Linked DNA regions of Homo sapiens: regions 1 and 3 are each reported to be linked to region 2. Evidence: microRNA targets listed by miRTarBase, many of them from high-throughput screens and not tested one by one. Region 2 holds a microRNA gene; each other region holds the end of a gene's coding sequence.
Evidence for each region. The annotated mature microRNA hsa-miR-329-5p reads GAGGUUUUCUGGGUUUCUGUUUC and lies in region 2 at 1,933-1,955, opposite strand. An mRNA with a match to its seed (bases 2 to 7 or 8) in the 3' UTR can be bound and repressed. Matches are read on the target gene's strand: a 7mer-m8 pairs with bases 2 to 8, a 7mer-A1 pairs with bases 2 to 7 and ends in A, and an 8mer does both.

Region 1 (7,192 bases), not on the chromosome of region 2:
GGGGGAAGGAGCCCGGCAACTGGTGTTTTAAGGAGCCCCTGGCAATTCTGGTGCTCACTTGAGTTTGAGACCAGGGACCAGGATGGCAACTCTCAACTCTGCTGCTCACTATGATCCCCCCGGGAAGGTTTTTTTTGTTGTCGTTGTTTTTGAGACAGAGTCTCACTCTGTCGCCCAGGCTGGAGTGCAGTGGCATGATCTTGGCTCACTGCAACCTCCACCTCCCAGGTTCAAGCAGTTCTCCTGCCTCAGCCTCCCAAGTAGTTGGGATTACAGGCACAGGCCAAGCCCAGCTAATTTTTGTATTTTTAGTAGAGACAGGGTTTCACCATGTTGGTCAGGCTGGTCTCGAACTTCTGACCTCAAGTGATCCGCCCGCCTCAGCCTCCCAAAGTGCTGGGATTACAGGTGTGAGCCACCGCGCCCGCCCCCCTCACCCCCCCAGGAAGGCTTTAAATGCTGATGCCTAAGCCTCACCCATAGATTCTGATTCTACTTCCGTCAGTATCGAATGCCTCTCCCCAGGTGCTCCTGCTGCCCTATGAGCATTGAGAACCCTGAGGTAAGAAGGAGAAGAGAACAGAGGGAGAGGAGCTGGTTTTAGCTTTGGTTTCCCCATGTTGTTTAATTTTGGGGTGGGATGGGAATTCTTGAGGTAGCCTTGGAAGTCACTTACCAAGAGTAGTGGGCACATATGCAATGAGAGAGCAAAATAGTGTGCAGGGATCACTGAAAAGAATGGGAGAGAGAGGAAGGAGTTGCCTGAAGACCAAGGGCAGAAATCCCAAAAGGCAGGCAGAGCCCAACGAAGAAGGGCAGCCAGACAGCCCTGAAAGCCGAATCCATGGCACCCAGATGATCTTCTCCAAGGGTCATCCCCAGTCCAGATATGGAAGGAGCAGGGGGCCAAGCCAAGGCGGGATCTGCACGAAGCAGCAGCAGGGCCACCTCCGGGCAAGAGTGTGACTCCAGGGAGTCAGCTCAGCTGACAAGACACAGAAAGCTGCCCGTCTGCATGTCACGTGACCTGTCCACACACAGTCCTCCTTTACCACCACGTCCTTGGCGTACCCACATCCTCATTGCGCTGAGGTTGTCCAAGCTACCAAGACTTGAGGCAGGGATTCTCACAGCACCGTCCAGTGTTAAACTGCCCTTAAGGTCACTATTACAGTTATGATGAGCCCTAACAGTATGTTAGGGATAAACAGATGCCCACCTGATTCCCCAGTGTCCAGACACCTGGGCTTTTTCCTAACTAGAAGACTCGGAGTTCACCCACTGCCTACTTCCCATGCCTAGGATTCTCCCTGGGTTCCCTGTACTGGTAAGATGCCAACACGTCCACTAAGTCAGATTGAATCTCTCACCACCTGAAGGCCTTCCTGAAACCATCGGTGAGCCGCTTGCTTCCCTGGCTACTACTTGGCCTCCGAACCCAACTAACCACCCTAGCAGAAATCATCTTAAACTCCACCCAGAACATTCCACCCTATCTGTCATCTCACCTCTTGAGTCCATCTCCTAAATATCCAAGTGACCTCACTTCTAGCCTATGCTACTAATGCCAATCTCTTAGCTCTAGCCTTGGCCACTTCTCAGCCAACCTGGCGGCTGGTCATGCTCACCTGCTGTTCTCTGCACTCCACCAGCCGCCTTTCAGGCCATCAGGCAGCCTGGAATCCACTATCAGCCTCAGGAGTCTAAAAAGCACATCAGACCTTGGTAACCCTTCTTGTCCAAACTGTCAAACAAAACCTGCCCTGCGCTTTTGCACCTGACTTACAGTTAGCCAGCTGAGTCCTGCTGGCCAGCTCCCACTGCCAGCCCCCTTTCAGAATGTCACCTCACCCCACGGTGCTTCAGGCAGAGCTCATGACAGGCTCCTCATGGCCTCCCTGCATCTCCCTAACAGCACTCACCCTGCCCTGGAGCCGTCAGTCCTGCCGGTGGGACTCTGCCCGCCGCCTGCGAGACGACGTGAGTGTGTTCACTTTTATACACACCCAGAAGTGGCCCTAGTGTTTGGGAAACGGCAGTTAAGAATGGAAAAGCCTGTCAGGCGCGGTGGCTCACACTTGGAATCCCAGCACTTTGGGAGGCCAAGACGGGCAGATCACGAGGTCAAGAGATGGAGATCAGCCAGGCGCAGTGGCTCACGCCTGGAATCCCAGCACTTTGGGAGGCTGAGGCAAGCGGATCACAAGGTCAGGAGTTAAGAGACCAGCCTGGCCAACATGGTGGAACCCCATCTCTACTAAAAATACAAAAATTAGTCAGGCGTGGTGATGCGTGCCTGTACTCCCAGCTTCTTGGGAGGCTGAGGCAGGAGAATTGCTTGAACCCGGGAGGCAGAGGTTGCAGTGAGCGGAGAATCGTGCCACTGCACTCCAGCCTGGGCGACAGAGGGAGACTCTGTTCGGGAAAAAAAAAAAAAAAAAAAAGTAAAAACCACAGCCTCGCCCATGTCGCCACTGCACCCAGCGTTGGTGTCAGATCACCACCTCTCCAAGCCTCAGAACCCCCTCAACCGCTGCCCAGGCTACAACGCAAATGCCTTCAGACACAGCCTGGCTGGCAGGAAGGCCTCTGGGTCAGCAGTGTGCCCTGCTCTCTGCCACCCCTTTGGTTTGGATGCAGGAGCTGCCTCACCTCGCTTGTTCTTACTTGGCTGTCCTCATTTTGGGGTGTCCAGCCAAACCCCTAAAGAGAAGCGAAGACATGATGCCCTGTGTTTGGTGGATACCGTGGGGTGGAGAAAGCTTACTTCCAAGTTGCTAAAGGGAGATGCGGGGAGCCACACACATCAGGTAACAGCTGCAGAGCAGCATTCTCAACAGGAGCCGCTGCACGGCAACCCGCCTGCGCCCCGGGGTTCATTCAGCCTCTTGGTCACCTATTCACTAGGGCTGCTCTCATAACCTCCTGGTCACTGAGCTCCCTGCAGGGACCTACCTGCCCCTCCTAGCCCAGCCTCAACTTCCAGGACAGGTGGAATCAGCGAGACTGTGGTTGGGATGTACTTTAAAAAAAAAAAATCAAATGAAACCAACAAAGACACAGAACTCACAAAACCGGAGTATTTTATTGCACCAAGATCTTGGCAACACGTGGGGCTCCCCAGGCCCCCGGAAAGGAGGTGCAGAGGATGGGACACAGACCTCTGCACACACACAGGTGCGGCCATGCAACCAGGACGCGGGGCAGGCAAGTGAGAGGACCTGGGAGAGGTAGCTGCTGTACACAGGCCCCACTCCCTCCAGCTCCATTCCCAAGCACAAAATTCAACAGACCCAGATCCTAAGTCAACCAAGTGACTGCTATGACAAAGGCTTGGGTTATTGACATTTACTTACATACGTGTACAAGACCTAGAGTTTGAACTCGTTTTCTGGGCCTCATCTTTCCCTTCCCTATCTGGTTGATGACTTCGGTGGAGGGAAGGGACGTGACTCCACCCAACAGTGATAAACGCTGCAGAAAGTCATCTCGTGCTCACCACTGCCCAAGAGTTAACGAATGTATGTACCCCAGGAAAAGGTTTTACAGTTATCTAGTGGAGAAGGGAAGAGACTGATTTGGAGGAGAGAAGGGAGAGAAAGGAACGAGATAAATTCTGTGCCAGCAGACAACTAACATTTTCAACTACAGAACATCACACGGTAAACATGGCAGAGGGAACAGTTCACACAGGAATGCAAGTCAACACCCCGAGAAGAAAAGGAACATACCCTGCCCGTGAAGGCATGTGCTTTCCCTTCCAGATAAGTTACAAAGCCAGAGCACGGAAGCCAGGCCCTCATCTTTGAACATTCAGAGACTGGTCCGCAGGAGAGGGCACCCTGAGCAGCTCCACTCACTGCTGCTGGGACACAGGTGGCCACAGGAGCTTGATTCTCTCCCACCCTTCTAAGAAGAGAAACGTAAAAACAGAAGAAAATCCAAAAAGAGACACCCACCCACATGGAAAAAAATAAATGTATCTTCCCATATTAAAAAAGCAATTCCATCTACACGCCAGTAACCACCCAGGCCCCGAGCACAGGGGCAGGAAGCAAAGCTGCCCCAGGGAGAGGGGGTGCAGACAGCGAGGCAGCCACCCGGGACAGCAGGATGCCTCTGGCCCAGCAGAGCCACACTGAAGGAGGTCTAAGTCCAACACCACGTTGTCCATCTCCACCTGCGACGACTCCGGGAGGAAATGACGGGGACAGACCCGATGAGGAAGGATGTTCACGGTCACCTTCACACTTCCCACTACTATGAGGGCATTTGTCTTTTTCCTGAAAATATCACCTTCTCTGAGGATTTCCTGTATTTATTAAGTTACAAGTTGGCAGGCACAGCTTGAGCAACATAGAAAAGTAATCTTCTTGAGTTATACAATCATTTAAATTCCAAAGCACTCACAAAATTGAGCAAACAAAGCCACTATTTGCATATTTGGGAAAGGAAACATATTGCTAATGGAAGCCACAGGACTGGTCAAAAATAAATGTTTTGTATTAAGTAGTAAAATAAATGGAGAATTCTACCCCAAAGCCTCCACCTCAGTGAAGACCTGCGGGTTATTGCAGCTGCAAGGGAAGCTACAGCACAGTCGTCTCAGAATAAACAGCAGCCTGGAAAGCAGATGTATTCGCAGGTATCGAGGGCTCCTCCGACCCCAAATAGCCTCTGCTCTCCAGGACAGTTGAGAGCTACTCACAAGGAAGGGGTGCACAGTAGGGCCACCCTCTCGAGTTCCATAAAAGGGAGAGGTGGCTGGGTGGGGTCACCTCTTCCTTTCTGAGGACAGGTAAGGCCAACAGATGAAGGGGTCCCGCTGAGGAAGCAGGGGAGGGCGGGCTCGGACACAACGGTGGCGTCAGCCCCGAGAAGCAAGGGATGGCTTGCCCAGAGCCACCAGCTATGCACCGGGAGACCACCTGGGGGACATGTGGCCACCATCCCCCACTCTCCTGATAGCCCCAACCAGGGGCAGCAGCCTCTGCCAGCACAGACCACTGTCTATGAAACATGAGAAGGCACAGCCTGGCAAAGATGTCCAGCAGGTGTGCGGCCACCTCTGCTCACACACACACTGTCGTTTCTCTTGCAGGGCTGGTCGGGAATGTCACCAAAGAGGTTCCGATCTAGAGAAGCCTCAAAGCCTCTGTGTTGGGCGGTCTGTGGACACTGGTACCGGGAGAGCTCCTACCGTGACAGGCTCCCAGCGCAGCAGAGCCCACACAGAGAGCTCCCTCAGATCCAGACCGACAGCTCCCGGGAAGGGACGCCTTGTCTCCAGGAGGCTGCAGAACAAACCACGGTAGTCCTGACAGAGAGAAACGAGACCCGAATCTTCCCACTGCCACCCTCGGGTATGAGTCCAACCTAGGAACCCAATGCATGGCATCTCGATGCGGCTGGCAAGAAGTCACCCTTCTGCAAGTGACTGGGACACATGCCAGATATACACACAACCCACATCCCACACACACCCCACACATGCCCTTCTCCAAGTGACCAGAACACATGCCACAGATGCCAGGTGTACACACCCCACACCCAACACACACTACACACACCCCCTTATACACACGCATCCCACACACACCCCCTTATACACACGCATCCCACACACACCCTTCTCCAAGTGACTAGGACACACACCACAGACGCGCCCACACCACACACACCACCCAACACACATGTGCCAGATACACAGCCCACATACATCATACACACACGCCACACCCCACCACACCCCTACACACATACACGGCACACACACCCCCACCTCACCCTTACACCCACCCCCTCGGAACCGACCTCCTTCCACAGGGGCACAGTCAGCGGCGATAGCTGAGGCTGGCAGCCTTTGCTGGGTGAGTCACAGACCAGAAGTTCCGTCGAGTCTGAAGTTTCTGGAAGGCGTTGAAGTTTCTCCTCTTCTCTCTCTTAAATTTTTTAATTTTCTTTTCCTAGACCAAGAATCACAGGCATCACAGTTCCCAAAAACGGCTCTTTCCTGGCCCACGGGGCTCCATGCTGCATGCAGGTCCTGCACACAGGCCGGGCTCTCATGAGCTCTCTGGAGACCCACTCTTCACAATGACCCCTGTGCACGGCGACCTGCAGTCCCCCTATTGACAAAGGGGCGGAAGCTGCGAGGATGCATGCCCTGTCCATGGCCACACGCCCGGACAGGCCTGGGCAGCCTGGCTCTTCTCATGCTCGGCCGCTTCATGCCACTGCCGCCACCTCCAACTGCCCCGGCTCTGAGCTGAGCCACGCCGCCCTGCTCCCTCAAGCCTGTGGTCAGCATCACACATCATACCTTCCCTCGGTCAAACTCTTCGTCCCAGTCATCAACCACGGTCTCAGTCCGGGCCTGTCTGCTGTCTTCAATAGCATCCTGACTGACCGCCGACATCTTGCCATCCCAGGTCAGAACTACCAGGCAGACACGGGGGTCAGCACGAGTGCAGGTTCCCAGGTCCCCTGTGGCTTCACTTCAAGAGTGTCATTTACCAACTAGTCTACTCATAATTAGTCAACAATTTTGAGTGCCACCTTGTGGTGAAGAGAAGGACAAGAGGAGGACGGCTCGACGCCCATGTGTGGTCGGTCAGCATGGAACCCCCAGCGATGCCCTCTTAGCTAAACCCTAAACCACAGCCAAAGAGTTCAGTTCTTTCTAAACCCATGCCCTCGTCTGAGGAACAAAGATGTCATGTTTGGTCTCGAAGTCTGAATAAAAACATGCTCTGAGCAAGAAGTGACATTACCCAGGTTGGAAGAGCTTCGTCACTCTGCCCCTTCCCTACCCAAGACACAGCATGTGTGGGGCTCCTCACCCTGCCCCAACCCTCAGAAGCAGCTGTTCTGGATCCTGCCACGGACAGAAGCCACCTTCGTGCCACGGCTGAGGGTTTAAAGAGGACTCCAGCCAGTGTTGAGATTCCTCTTCCCATTCTCAAAGCCGAGCGATGCCCGCCCGCCACACTCACAGTGCACCAGGATCCATTCCACACCCTTCCCTCCTACAAAACCAACCAATGAAAGGCAAACAGAAGTCCTGTCTCCAAATCAGTACCTTTTCTCCCGTAAGCTTTATCAGATGAGTATTTGAGCAGTTCCTGGACCACATCAGACTCCCGCTCTCCATTCCAAGACACAGGAGGGGCCTGGCTCAGCCCTGCAATCG
Region 2 (7,192 bases):
TTCCTCTTACAAAGTTGTAAAATTGTGCCCTCTTTTCCCCCGAAGGTGGACCCCGGAGCAGAGGTCTGAGAAGAAAATCCCAGGGCCAGGCTGCGGCTCTGCACCCTTGCCACCTGTCCTTTGACCCCTCCGTAGCCAGCAGAGCACCCAATCTACATGGACCCAGCAGCCGCCTACCCTGGATACCCCGGAGGCAACAGCATACTGCCTGCTGTCACATGGCCTTGACACACTCTCTCTGCCCTCTCTTTATGAGGGCTCTTTTCGGCTGGAAGGAACGGTGTTTGGGTATCAGCTAATAGGAAGGATTGGTGGCGGAGGTCATTGGTGCTACCTCATATGTTCTCTCTGGTTATAAAAAGCAGGGTTGACATGGAAATACCTGGCCCTTCTCCAGAACCTGAGGCCCTCCTCCCTCACAGTCCCATCCCCAAATGCCACAGATGAGCCGAGGACCCACAGTCACAGCTAAGTGCCATCAAAACAAATGCAGCACCAGCAAAACCTACTTCTGTGCCTTGGCTTTAGAGCTGGCAGGGAGCCTTTTCCTTCCCCAGAGGCTGGCATCACCTCCAGGAAGTCCTCCTGGAAAGGATCGGGCACCAAGCATTACTGCCAGACAGGACGCTTAGAACAGGGGAAGCACCCATCTCGGCCCACTCACCCTGGCCTGGGCCTGACAACTGTCTTATCCGGAAGCCTTCCAAACTGGTGTTTGATACTGAAGAGTGGTCCACAGAAATGATTTATATAAAAGAAACAGATATGCCAAAGGAAACCTCTCCTTGAGCACCCCAAAGAAGGACCATCTGCAGAAACACAACCCTGAGGGTAGGTCAGATGTGCTGGTCAGTGGAGCAGGTGTGTTCCTGGGGAGGTACATGCCCCGTGGTGGGCCATCCACTCCCTTCCCCTGGATCAGGGCTGGTGACAATGCCCTCCCTTCAAGCTGGCATGACATCAAGGATTCCTCCAGATTTAAAGGAAGTCAACTCCACAATTCCTGTGAGAAATAAACAGGTCTCAACCTGGGCCAATTCCAGGGCCCCCAAGGTCTCCTCTTGACCTCAGAATCAGCTTTTCTTCCCTAAGGTGTCATTATATCCAGGACATCCTTTCAGAATAAACTGCAGGCTAGGGGCAGGCGTGCAGGACACCTGCACTATCTGTCCAGGGCATGCTGGCATTCCCCTGCTGTGGGCTGGGCTCATTCAAGCCCATCACTGAGTGTGGCAAGGACGAGGCATCCCCCTACAGCAGGGTCAGATGCCGAAAGAGCCTGAATTACACACACGATCCGTTGGGAGCACAACGAAGGCAACCACAGACAACTCACCTGCATGTTCCGTGACACTGTCGTGGTGACACTGTCTTCCCCCAGGCTGCCATCACATTGAAAAGTCCTCCTAAGAAGGGATAAGACATTGAGGGTTAGCGCAATCGGTGGCAAAATTCAGAAACATGGGGCACGCTTAGTGATCAGCCATTTGCTCGTGTCTCCTTATTTATGTCCACAGCACCCCTTCCCTGAAGCTGAGGTCTGGACCAGAAGGCCTCCAAGATGGGATTTGATACTGGAAAAGAGGTTAACCAGGTGTGTTTCGTCCTCAATAAAGAAACAGAAACCCAGAAAACCTCTCTTCAGGTACCACCAAGTAACACTGACAAGAACACCACTGATTCCTTCCCCAAACTTGACATTCAGTCCTGGAAGTCCTGTTAAATACGGATTGGACACTGGGGTTAGTAGAACAGATGACATCAGTCAAAATAATACAGCACAGGCTTCGTGGTTAACCATAGATTTCTGTCCAGTGGACTGGAGCTGAGAGTAACGCCCTTCCCTGAAGCTGAGGTCTGGACCAGAAGGCCTCCAAGATGGGATTTGATACTGGAAAAGAGGTTAACCAGGTGTGTTTCGTCCTCATTAAAGAAACAGAAACCCAGAAAACCTCTCTTCAGGTACCACTGATTAACACTGACAAGAACACCACTGATTCTTCCCCAGACTTGACATTCAGTGCTGGAAGTCCTGTTAAATATGGAATTGCACACTGAGCGTTAGTTAGTTGATTTGCCGGAAGAAGCCAAGAGTTGGATGCATGCTGCTTGCCAACCATCTATCCAAGTACCCCAGTGGAGCAGACCCCACATCACGTCTGGAAGTTGACATCACAGCCAGAGGTGGTGATGCCATAAAAAGGCTGGTCACAGCAGCTATCGCGTTTAGGGTTAACCTCCAGGGCCATCTTTTCTCAGTTACTCAAGAGAGGCACAGATGCCCCAAAGCAAGGCTGACTCCACCAAAGGTCCTGCTAAGGACCCAGTGGAGACTGAGGTGTGACGGGCCAGGCGACCTTGGTTGTAAATTAAAGTGCATACACTCAGGTCAGCTGATCACTGGAGGACTTTGGGATGGTATAGACAGCATGCCCCTTCCCTTGAACTTGGATGCCTCCACATCTAGGAAGCCCTCCAAGGAAAGAGATCGGAGTGAAAATCAGTCCAACTCAGCCACATTTGGCATACATGTCGCAAACGCCTCGCAGATGCTCTCTTCAGAGTCTAACAGAGTGCAGCTGGCCCCAGTTTACTGTCTCTTTCCCAAAAAGTTGACACCTCTTCCAGGAAGTTCTCCAAGGGGGCATTAGATACTGAGGGTTAGTGGACCAGGTCACAAACGGCACAAATAAAGCGTGTGCTCTCTGGTCAACCATCTCATGTATCCAGGCACGTGCTGACACCACGCTCCTTGTCCGCAAGTTAACCCTGCTGCCAAGCCAGAGCAGTGTGCTGAGAAGAAGGCTGCCACACGTGAGTTATCGTCACACACAAGACAAACACATCACAAACCCCGCTGGGTCACACTGAGCGCAGACCTAGTGGCCCCCACCCCCGCAGTTGATGTTAGCTCCAGGAAAGCTTGCAAGGCGGGATTAGATACTGCAAAGAGGTCGACCGTGTAATGTGCGCCATAAATAAAGCGAACGCGCCACGGACCACCTCTCTCCAAGTACCAAGCAGCAGCCGTACTGACACCAGGACAGTGGCTCTTCCGCAAAGCTGATATCACCTCCTGGAAGTCTTCCAAGGCGAGATGTGATATTGAGAAGAAGTAGACCATGTGTCCTACGTCACAAATAAAGCGTACACACCATGGTCAACCGCATCTTCAAATACCAGGAAGTGACGCTGACCCCTGGCTCTCTTCCTTTCACCTGCTATCACCTCCAGAAAGCCTCACAATGCGCATCATGAACTACCAGCCACCGGCAATGTGGCAATGACCACAAACCCACATCCAATGCCACTACCACCTCCAGGATGCCCTGTAAGGGTGGGACCGGTACTGAGTTCTTGGCTGGTGGACCAAATGGCCAATGTAATAAATAAAGGACTGGGTCTGCAGCCAACCACCCGGTGACCTGCACTGCACCCTGGCTACCACTCAGGCCTGGCTCTCAAGTCGGCATGGCCTCCGGGAAGCCCCAGGGCTGGCTGATACTGAGAATGAGTGGACCATGCTACATCTGTCATTCAACAATGCATATGCTTTATGCTCTACCATCTCTCCAAGTACTGTGGAATGGCGCTGAAGCCAGATCAGTGTGTCTCCCACGAAGGTGACTTTGCCTCTCTCTGGGAAGCCCTCTATGACTGAATTTGATATTGAGAAGATGTGGACCATATTACATACGACACAGAGATAGCGCATGTTCTATGGTCAACCATCTTTTCAGGTACCTTGGAGAGGGCTGAGGTCAGAGCCGGTGTCTCTTTCCTCTCACTAGCATCACCTCCAGGAAGCCCTCTGAGGCCTGATGTAGTATTGAGAAGAGGCCACCATGCAATGTCTGCCGCAGATGCAGTGGACGCAGCACAAAGGAGCCCCTCAAGAATGGAGATGATGCTGGAACTAGTGCTATGACTGACACTCGTTCCTGCCTACAGAAAGCCCCCCGAGGTGCACGCTGTTATAGGAAGGTGGACGAAGTAACATGCGTTGTAAGTAAAACATATGAAGCATGGCCAACTTCTACTAAGTACCCCGAGGCAGTACTTGTACCAGAACTGGTGCTTTGTCTCCTAAGCTTAACATAACCTCCCTGGAGACTTTCCAGGCTGAATGGGATACTTCAAAAGAAGTAGACCATGTTACATACGTCATGGGGAAAAGACATGCAGTGTGGCTGAACCCTTTTCAGGTACCGTGAGGTCAGTGAAGAGGCCAGAACCAGTGCTCTGTCCCTGAGGCTGGCAGCTTCTTCAGCAAGTTCTCCAAGCAAGGGTTCTGGGATGGAGATAGGGAAGAAGTGGGCCATGGAGGCACTTCCTCTGTAAACATACACGATGGGGTCGAGCAGCTCTTCATGAGGATCAGTGCTGAGTCCAGAGCTGGGACATCTTCCCCCGAGATGGCTAGACTTGAGATGGAAAAAAGATAGACTGTACACGCATCAGCAAAGACAAAAACGAGTCAGTGCGTCTTCAAGTACCTGGAGTGGCATCATCTCCTGGACCCATATCTGCTCCTACATGGGCGTACTGTCCTGAAGTCATCTGAGGAGGGCTCTGAGGATGAGAGGTGACCTGTTTCACATCCCTCGTTCATGAACATTTGCGGCACCAGCCACCGTTTCTTCAATTACTCCAGAGGGATGTGCCAACGTGGGCAGTAGGACACCTTCCTGGAGGTCATCCTTGTCCTGAGGAAGTCACTGGAGGCTGTGTTTGGCACTGAGGAGAAGACCGCATCACAAGCATTGACAGAGAAAGCACACATCTAAGAGTCTACCATTCCACCAAGTGCCATGGCATGGCGGATGCCGAGACCCGTGGCTCTCCTCTAACTCCAGGCTTTCTCCAGGGAGGTTTGGATGGCTGGGCTGGATACCAAGAAGCGGTTTACCATCCCACATACATATTCAAAATGTATGTGGGACGGTAAACCATTTCTTCAAGTACCGCACGATGGTGGTGGTGGTGGCTGGAAGAAGGCTCATGTCCACGAAGTTGCCTGAGGGCGCTTCTTCTAGGCTGCATTTGACGCTGAGAAGAAGCAGGTCACGGTGTCTACTGAATAAGCGTAGCGTAGTCAACCACGTCATTGAGCACCATGGAATGGCACTGATTCCGGGAAGAATCAAGGTCTCCTCCCCAGGGATGGCGCGATTTCCCAAGGCAGAACTTGATTTAAGAGGAGCGAGATTATGCCATTTTGCATCATGCAGAAAAACACATGCCATACAGAAAATCATCTCTTCGGGTGTCATGGAGAAGTGGTGGTGGGTCCAACCGTTCCTCCCCGAAGACAGCGTTGTTTCCAGGAGCCTCGGGGATGGATTTGATACTGAGGGTTAGTGGACCGTGTTACATACGTCACAGATAAAGCGTACGCTATACGGTCTACTATCTCTCCAAGTACCACACAGAGATGCCGAGGACAAAGGCTCAGGACACATCCAGAAAGCCCTCCAAGGCCTTGAGCTGGGTGGAACCAGAAGGGAGGTTGAGCACAGCACATGCATCATGCGACAAGCACACACAGGCCAGGAGTCTCGTCTTCATGGTCGGGGGTTGACATGAATGCTCGAAGCAGTGGCTCATCCCCAAAACTGGCAACTCCTCCAGGAAGCCCTTCGAGGCCGAAAGTCCCACTGAGAAGAAGTGGACGATGATATGGATTTCATCACTCCATAAATACTGATTAAGTGCCTGCTGTGTGCCAGGCGCACTGTGCTGGGTCTGAAGGAGTGGGTAGATGGGAGGGAGGACATGGCACATGGCTAACAGAGCTGGTTAGGGGAGTGGGGAGAAAATCAGAAATACAAAATGGCCCACGTGCAACCAAAGAACATCCATCTAGTTACACTAACCAGGCCAAGGAAACAGTACTGGGCACCTGAGGCCCAGATCTTACCTATTAGTGAGCTCTAGTCTTGGGCATTAAAAAAAAAAAAAAAGTGCCCTAAGGCCATATCTGCCTCAATACCAAGGGCATTTCCAGGAGGTCCTCTTAGGTTGGATTAGATTCTGAGCAGTAACCACCATGCCATCTTCATGAACAAAGCAGGAGTTGTTTTGGTCAACCACCTCCCTAAGGACAGAACCACTGTCTCATTCCCAGACTTGGCACTGCCTCCGGAAAACCCTGAGACTGAATGTAAGATTGATCAGAGGTGGACATTGGTATAAACAGAAAACTTCAACACAGGAAAGCAACTCTTCAATGCCACACAGCGGAATGAAGGATGGACTGGTGGGTCCCCCTGAAGGTAGTATTGGCTCCACGAAGCCCTCCAAAGCTGGCAGGCTACTGGGAAGTGGTAGCCCATCTCACACAAATCCCTCCTTTCGCACAGGCCACATGGCAAATCATCTCTTCCAGAACCACGGCTGAGGCTGGAACCGGTGTCTTGAGCCCAAGTTGCATCACTTCCAGAAAACTCCCCAGAGAGTGCATTTAGTGCCCAGAAGAGCCAGGCCTTGTTGCACAAGTCAGACATCAACCATGAGCCACAGAAATTGCCGTGGAGCAGTGCTGAAGCTAAACCACGTGTTCTCTTCCCTGAAGTTGGCAACACCTCCAGGAAGCCCTCCGAGGATGGATTGGATACTGAGAGTTAGTGGACCATGTTACATAGGTCAGAAATCATAACGCCTACGTTCCATAGTCTACCATCTCTTCAGGAACCACGGAATGGTGCTGACCCCAGAACCAGGGCCTTGCCCCTGAAGTTGGCGTCACTTCCAGAAAGCTTTCTGAGGCTGGATTTGGCATTGGAAGCAGGCACATGGTGAACATAAACAACCCCTCCTCCAATGTGGGGCAGTGGCATTGATGGGGGAAGGGGTGCCTCTACCCTAAGTGGTAATTCCTCCAGGAAGGCCATGTCAACTTGGAAAGACTGCGACAAGGCAAAATGTACAATACTGACCATGCTTTGGCCATTATGTGGTCAACTATCTCTTCATCAAGATAAAGGGCAGTGTTTTGTTCTGCATGGCAAATGGGACACTCCAAGAGCACAGTTCATCATATAAAAGGGGACCCTCAACCTCTAGGTAAAAACTTCCCTAGCTCACCCAAGTTCCGATGGTCCTCGCCATGCTCTAGACCACCTTTGGAGACTCAAACCACAGAGCTGAGTGGGCAGTGCGTTCCTCCAGCTCCTGATTAACCTCTCCACCT
Region 3 (7,192 bases), not on the chromosome of region 2:
AAAGTAAATAAGTAAATAAAATAAAATAAATTCTCAGAGGCGTGGGGAAAGAGCAATTCCATGGCAGCAAGATTTTGTAAAAGAAACAAAAGGGAGGCAGCTCAGGTAGGCAGCCTGCCTCACCCACAGCTCACAAGGAAACCCACACTCCAATAGTTACACATTCCCAAGCTTAGGAACCACTGGGACTGTGGAGACACAGGCCAGGCTGGCCCACTCTTAGGTAGTGTGTGAGGGAAATGTGAGCAGCCAGAAAATTACTTCTGGGACTTCCACACACACCCTGCTGGCCCCTCCCCACAGTGTGGACACAGTCCTTCCACCGGGGTCTCAATGCCCACCAAAGACCACTCGCTCACTGTGAGTCAGTGGAAGGTTCTGACCTATGCTGTCTTTTTTTCTGACACCAAATGTGTGGTGCTTGCTGAACACCAGCGAATTCTCCAGCACTAAGCAGTCATGCAACCACTCAATTCAGAAGCCACCCAGAGTTAGCAGAGACTCCATGAGTTCCTGGCTCACCCAACACAGCCCCACTCAGCAGATGCCACTCAAAGCCCCAGGGGCCACCTGTACTTCTCAGCAACTGCATCTAGACCTGGGTCCTGTACAACAGCCTCCTCAAGTTCCATAATTTGATAGAACTACCCACAGTTCACTTACATTTACCAACTTATTATGAAGGATACAACTCAGGAGCAGCCAAATCAAAGAGAGTAAGGGGTGTGAAAAGGAGATGGGGGTGGGTGGGTCATCCTGAAAAGAGGTGTGATTCAAGAAATCCCCCATCCTTTGTGTTGTGCAAGAGCACCTTACTACAACAAAACACCCTTCCCCTTATGACTTAGATGATGCCACGTTTGTTACCTATGACAAACCAGACACAGACTAGAAATTCCAGTATTCACCTCACAAACCATTAGGTGAATAGCTTTGTCTTTAGTGATCAGTCAAAATGAAATATCTATTAATCAAAGCATGCTTCAGTTTCTCTCCTTCCTCCAGGTCCCTGAACTTTTTTTTTTTTTTTTTTTTTTTTTCTTTTTTTGAGACAGAGTCTTGTTCTGTAGCCCAGGCTGGAGTGCAGTAGCATGATCTTGGCTCACTGCAACCTCTGCCTCCCTGGTTCAAGTGATTCTCATGCCTCATTCTCCGGAGTAGCTGGGGTTGCAGGTGTGTGCCATCATGCCCAGCTAATTTTTGTATTTTTTTATAGAGATGGTGTTTCACTATGCTGGGTGTTTCACCCATGTTTCAAGGGTGGTCTTGAACTCCTGGCCTCAAGTGATCTGCCCAAAGTGCTGGAATTACAGGTATGAGCCACCACGCCCAGCAGCCCCTGAATTTTTGACTGACTCCTTCTAAGCCTATATACAACCCCATTTTAGGTATTTAATCTTTTTATTTTTACTTACAAGTCCAGTACCTAGACTTTTTTTTTTTAAATGACCTCTTTTAATGACAAGCTGACTTCAAGGTCTAGAATTAAAAGTTATTTCTTACCTAAACCCACATTTGTTTCACTAGAAGTGTCTAGAAAAAGCCCCATGACAAAAATTATCACTTGCGCACGGCATCACTGACTACTGCATCTGCCTGTGGATCCCCAGCTTTCCAGGATTCTGAGATTCTTTTATTATAAAGGGCTCCTCCCATGGTCAACGTGAGTAGCTGGTACACCTGCAGTGGGGGCACCATGGGAAGAACCAAGTGAGAGCTTTTTTTTTTTTTCTTTTTTTTGGAGACAGAGTCTCGCTCTGTCACCTAGGCTGAAGTGCAGTGGCACGATCTTGGTGCACTGTAACCTCTGCCTCCAGAGTTTAAGCGATTATCGTGCCTCAGCCTCCTGAATGGCTGGGAACTGCAGGCATGAGCCACTATACCTGGCTAATTTTGGTGTTTTTAGTAGAGATGGGTTTTGCTGTGTTGGCCAGGTTGGTCTCGAACTCCCGACCTCAGATGATCTGCCCGACTCAGCTTCCCAAAGTGCTGGGATTACAGGTGTGAGTCACCGCCTGACGTGAGCTTTCAATAACCTCTCTTTGTAGGCTTCTCATTGTCCTTAGCTTGCAGTCACTGGACTCTGGCCTCTGTTTCAATGAGAAAATACCCAGCGTTTGAAGAATCCAGCAAAATCTCTCAAACTCGGTTTATGTTTATAGGCTAGAAGGAAATTATAAGGTACTTACCTTTCATCCCTCATGAGGGAAAGTAAAAGTATCTAACCCTTTCAGTCAATAAACATATTGAGAAATGTGTTTACACTACCATGTAATAGCTCCTTTCCTGTGAATATCAAAAAGATTAATTATCTTTGTTGTTCTTGGGCTGTAAATGATTAGAAAAGAGTGGGAAGTGACAGAGGTAGGATCCTTTTGAGACCACTACCCCTCCTTACAAAAAGTTAAGGCAATCATCATTGAAATTTGGTAGCTGCAACCAACCAAATCACTGAAATGTGTGCACTGGCCTTGTATGGAAAATGTCACCCTGTTAAGCGTCTACATTTTGCCCTACAGAAGTGAAGACTCAACTTCCCCGTGTTGGAGCACTGACCCCACTCTTCAGGATATCTGTTTCCCCAGTGGCTATCCTCAAACTTTGTGCTCAGAAATACTCAATATTTAATCATCTTCTCTGAATCTTGTTATCTTATTAAGGTGGACAATATTATTTCATTATGATTTCCATGATAACAAAGCCCATACTACATATTAATCACATGTGAACACAAACATATGACAACAGTTGCCAGCCAGGTGTTACCTCACAAATAATAGGAAGAGAAGAGTTATCCACTGTTACAAGTTCTCCAACTTGCAAAGGAGGACTGATATTTTGCTAAATCTTTGTAATTCACCAATTTATCTACTATACTTTGTTGTGGAAGTTTATTCATTTTTCTCAAGCTGTAAGAAAAGATTTTCCCTATTTCTTTTCCCAAAGCTAAACCCACCAACATCACTGACTTCCAAAATTAGTGGCCTTCCTGGCATACGAAGATCCTTTGGGCCTGTGCTCCAGTGTCCTCTTTGGGGTGCTCCTTGGGCTCTTTGTGAAGCATCAAGACACCCCAATATCTAGCCTAATGTCAGGCTCTCCAGTGTGTCCTGTTCATCACCCTCACCCTGCACTTCTATTGTCACTGTCATTGGCTATTCCAACACTGTGCTTGCATCCTGTGGAAAGTCACATTTGGGGTCAAGTGAATGGTGTTGTTTCTACTCTTTGGTGAAAAGTATCAGGGTGCATTTGGCCTTCAATTCAGAAGGATGAGGCAGGGGTTGGATTCAGGTGCACCCAACTTTTTTTGTGTGTGTGTGATGGAGTCTCGCTCTGTCGACTAGCCTGGAGAGAGCAATGGTGTGATCTCAGTTTACTGTAACCTCCACCTCCCAAGCTCAAGCGATTCTCCTGCCTCAGCCTCCTGAGTAGCTGGGATTACAGGCACACACCATGATGCCCAGCTATTTTTTTGTATTTTTAGACGAGACAGGGTTTCACCATGTTGGCCAGGCTGGTCTTGAACTGCTGACCTCAAGTGATCCACCTGCCTCGGCCTCCCAAAGTGCTGGGATTACAGGTGTGAGCCACCATGCCTGGCCAGGTTTCACTGCCCTGTCTTCCCTGTTCTGAGTTACTTTGTGTGATCCGACAATCAATGACTCCTCCCTTCACTGATGTGGATACATTATCTGGGACTGGGTGTGTCACCTCCACACACAGACAGGGCTTGGTCAGTGATTGATTCTGCATCCTGTGGTGCCTAGATTTAGACTATAAGGATTTTAAATAACTGTTTCTGAAGAGCAGCTTCACTGGACCTTACAGGAAGTGACAGAATTGTTCTAGCCATTGCATTATATATAAAAGTGACTTTTCCATGTTACCGTTAACTTTACACTGCTGAGATAAGCAGGCTGTTGACAAGTTAGCATCAACAGCACATTATCAGAGGAAGAAAGGCTTTTATTTAGACAATTTACACAAATTTATTAGCCTCCTATGACTCAGTAAAGCAATTTGAAAAAAATATAGCTTTATAAAGCGTAAATGAATTTATATATTTTAACTAAGGTACCTTCTAGTTAACAGTGCCCATACATTTTAGAAAATGTTTTAGTCTTTACAGAATAAGTAAGGCAAAAACAGGTCCAGAAGTCTATAGCTGACCTCCCCTCACCACAAGGCCAAGTTGTTTTTGTTTTTGTTTTTGTTTTTTCAGAAAGAGTTTCGCTCTTGTTGACTAGGCTGGAGTGCAATGATGGGATCTCGGCTCACTGCAACCTCTGCCTGCCAGATTCAAGTGATTCTCCTTTCTCAGCCTCCTGACTAGCTAGGATTACAGAAGCATGCCACCATGGCTGACTAAGTTTTGTATTTTTAGATGAGACAGGGTTTCATCATATTGGTCAGGGTGTTCTCGAACTCCTGACCTCAGGTGATCTGCCTGCCTCAGCCTCCCAATGTGCTGGGTTTTCAGGTGTGAGCCACCACACCCAGCCAAGGCCAAGTCTTTTACTGTTGGAGAGACACATGTTACATATCAGGCATATGAGATGATGCTCCTCAGTGATCATGATGGACCAGGACAAAAACAAGGGCATTTTGTAACTGTATTTCTAAAACTGATAGAAGTAAACATATTTCAAATCATAAACATGACGAAAATTTTTATCTTCTTACCAATGTGACTTGTAATTCTCATACATCCCACAGTCATTTATGTCTTCTGGTCATATTTATCACTATGGTATATTACACCCTTGCTGACAGCAGGTATGGCGCTGCTGGTTTTGGGCAAGAAGGTACTCAGAGATACATGAGATAACTTTTGGTATTATGAGTGAAAGAAAAATTAGGGTTGAGGCTGGGCGCAGTGGCTCATGTCTGTAAATCCAGCACTTTGAGAGGCCGAGGCAGGAGGATCACAAGGTCCAGAGTTCGAGACCAGCCTGGCCAATATGGTGAAACCCCGTCTCTACTAAATAATACACATAATTAGCTGGGTGAAGTGGTGCATGCCTGTAGTCCCAGCTACTCAAAAGGCTGAAGAAGGAGAATTGTTCAAACCTGGGAAGCAGAGATTGCAGTGAGCCAAGATCACACCACTGCACTCCAGCCTGGGCAACAGAGTGAGGCTCTTTCTAAAAAAAAAAAAAAAAAAAAAAGAAAAAGAAAAAGCAAAAGGAAAAAAAAAGAAAAATTACAGTTGAAATAAAAATTAAAGTACATAAGCATGAAAAGTAAAGTTTACATGAGGAAAAATATGCCTGGCATTTAATCCAGGTAATGCTGATTCACAATATCCAAATAATAACAATGTAACATTATAAGCTTGATCTAATACATGACACCAATGGATATTTTATTATAGCTTCTTAATTATTTAAAAAGAATAACATTTGTTAGTATACAGTTATTATAAACAGTTAATTGTTTACATTCATTATTTGTATTCAAAGAATCCTAGCCGATCTGAAGGCTTTCCCATACTGCTTACATTCATAGAGTTTCTGCCAAGTGTGAGTGCTTCCATGCATTTGAAGTCTTGAGGCTGATCTGACGGCTTTCCCACATTGCTTACATTGATACGGTTTCTCCCCAGTGTGAGTCCTTTCATGATATTGAAAAGAACTGGAAGAAGTGAAAGCTTTTGCCACATTGCTTACATTCATAGGGTTTCCTTCTGGTGTGTCTTTACATGTCTATGAAAGCAATTAAGCAAGCTGAATGCTTTCCCACAATCCTTACATTCATACGGATTCTCTCTCGTATGAGTCCTTTCATGTATATGCAAGGAAGAAAAATAATTGAATGCTTGTTTGCATTCCTTACATTCATAGGTTTCTCTCCAGTGTGTGTTTTGCATGTATTCAAACGATCTTGGCAGATATGAATGCTTTCCCACAATGCTTACATTCTTAGGGCGCCTCTCCTCTGTGCAACTTTCATGTATTTGAAAAGAAGAGAAATTATGGAACGCTTTTCCACATTTCTTACATTCATAGGGTTTCTCTCCAGTGTGTGTCCTTTCATAAATTGAAAGGTTCTTGACAGATCTGAAGACTTTCCCACATTGCTTACACTCATAGAGTTTTTCTCCACTGTGAGTCCTTTTAGATATCGAAAGGAACTGGAACAATTAAGGCTTTACCACATTGCTTGCATTTATAGGGTTTCTCTCCAGTGTGAATTTTTTCATGTGTTTGAAATAACTTGGCAGAATAAAAGTGTTTCCCATATATCTTATATTTATAAGGTCTTTCTCCAGAGTGCATTCTTATGTGTTTGTGTCCTTTCATGAAATCGAAAGTTCTGGACATATCTGAAGGCTTTCCCACATTTCTTACATTCATAGGGTTTCTCTCCAGTGTGAATCCTACGATGGATTCGAAGTTGTGAGGCAGATCTGAAAGCTTTCCCACATTCCTTACATTGATACGGTTTCTCTCCAGTGTGAGTCCTACCATGCAATTGAAGATTTGGGGCAGATCTGAAGGCTTTCCCACATTGCTTACACTCATAGGGTTTCTCTCCAGTGTGAGTCCTTTCATGATATCGAAAGGAACCGGAACGAGTGAAGGCTTTACCACATTGCTTGCATTTATACGGTTTCTCTCCACTGTGAGTTTTTTCATGTCTTTGAAATGACTTGGCAGAATAAAAGCCTTTCCCACATGTCTTACATTCATAAGGTCTTTCTCCAGAGTGCATTCTTATGTGTGTTTGAAAACTTGTAAGAGAGGATAATGCTTTCCCACACTGCTTACATTCATAAAGTTTTTTCCTAGAGTGGGTCCTTTCATGTCTACGAACATAACGGGGACACATGAATGCTTTTCCACATTCCTTACATTGATAAGCCTTCTCTCCCATGTGACTCCTTTCATGTCTGTGACAGGATCTGGGACTATGGAATGCTTTCCCACATTCCTGACATTCATAAGGCTTTTCTCCAATGTGAGTTCTTTCATGTATTCGATGGGTAGCAGAATAACTAAAAGATTTACCACATTGTTTACATTCATACGGTTTCTCTCCAGTGTGAGTTCTTTCATGGATAAGATATAAACTGAGACAATGGAATGCTTTCCCACAAAACTTACATTTATAAGGTCCATCCCCACTGTGCACTACCATGTGTCTTTGAATGCTTGAATGGTAAATAATGTTTTTTCCACATTCTTTA

Region 1: miRTarBase lists USP36 as a target of hsa-miR-329-5p. Seed matches in the 3' UTR shown: 7mer-m8 at 3,539-3,545.
Region 3: the mRNA of ZNF439 is a reported target of hsa-miR-329-5p. Seed matches in the 3' UTR shown: 7mer-A1 at 5,844-5,850.

Annotation. Positions count from the first base shown.
Region 1 is chr17:78,792,586-78,799,777 of GRCh38, forward strand. USP36 (ubiquitin specific peptidase 36) reads right to left here. Exons shown (of 21, transcript NM_001385174.1): 18 at 7,082-7,183; 19 at 6,323-6,438; 20 at 5,815-5,966; 21 at 3,067-5,294. The coding sequence ends at 5,835. Among named protein-coding and RNA genes, the nearest start is that of CYTH1, 14 kb to the left of the region's middle.
Region 2 is chr14:101,021,560-101,028,751 of GRCh38, reverse strand. MIR329-1 (microRNA 329-1) reads right to left here and starts at 1,967; the gene lies at 1,888-1,967. It overlaps LOC124903407 (mucin-2-like), which reads right to left. Exons shown (of 5, transcript XM_047432049.1): 5 at 1-7,192. MIR379 (microRNA 379) reads right to left here and starts at 6,686; the gene lies at 6,620-6,686. MIR411 (microRNA 411) reads right to left here and starts at 5,427; the gene lies at 5,332-5,427. It also overlaps MIR299, MIR380, MIR1197, MIR323A, MIR758 and MIR329-2.
Region 3 is chr19:11,867,633-11,874,824 of GRCh38, reverse strand. ZNF439 (zinc finger protein 439) reads right to left here. Exons shown (of 4, transcript NM_001348719.2): 4 at 5,339-7,192. The coding sequence ends at 6,256. It also overlaps the pseudogene VN2R14P. Among named protein-coding and RNA genes, the nearest start is that of ZNF69, 17 kb to the left of the region's middle. RefSeq lists an enhancer at 1,937-2,231.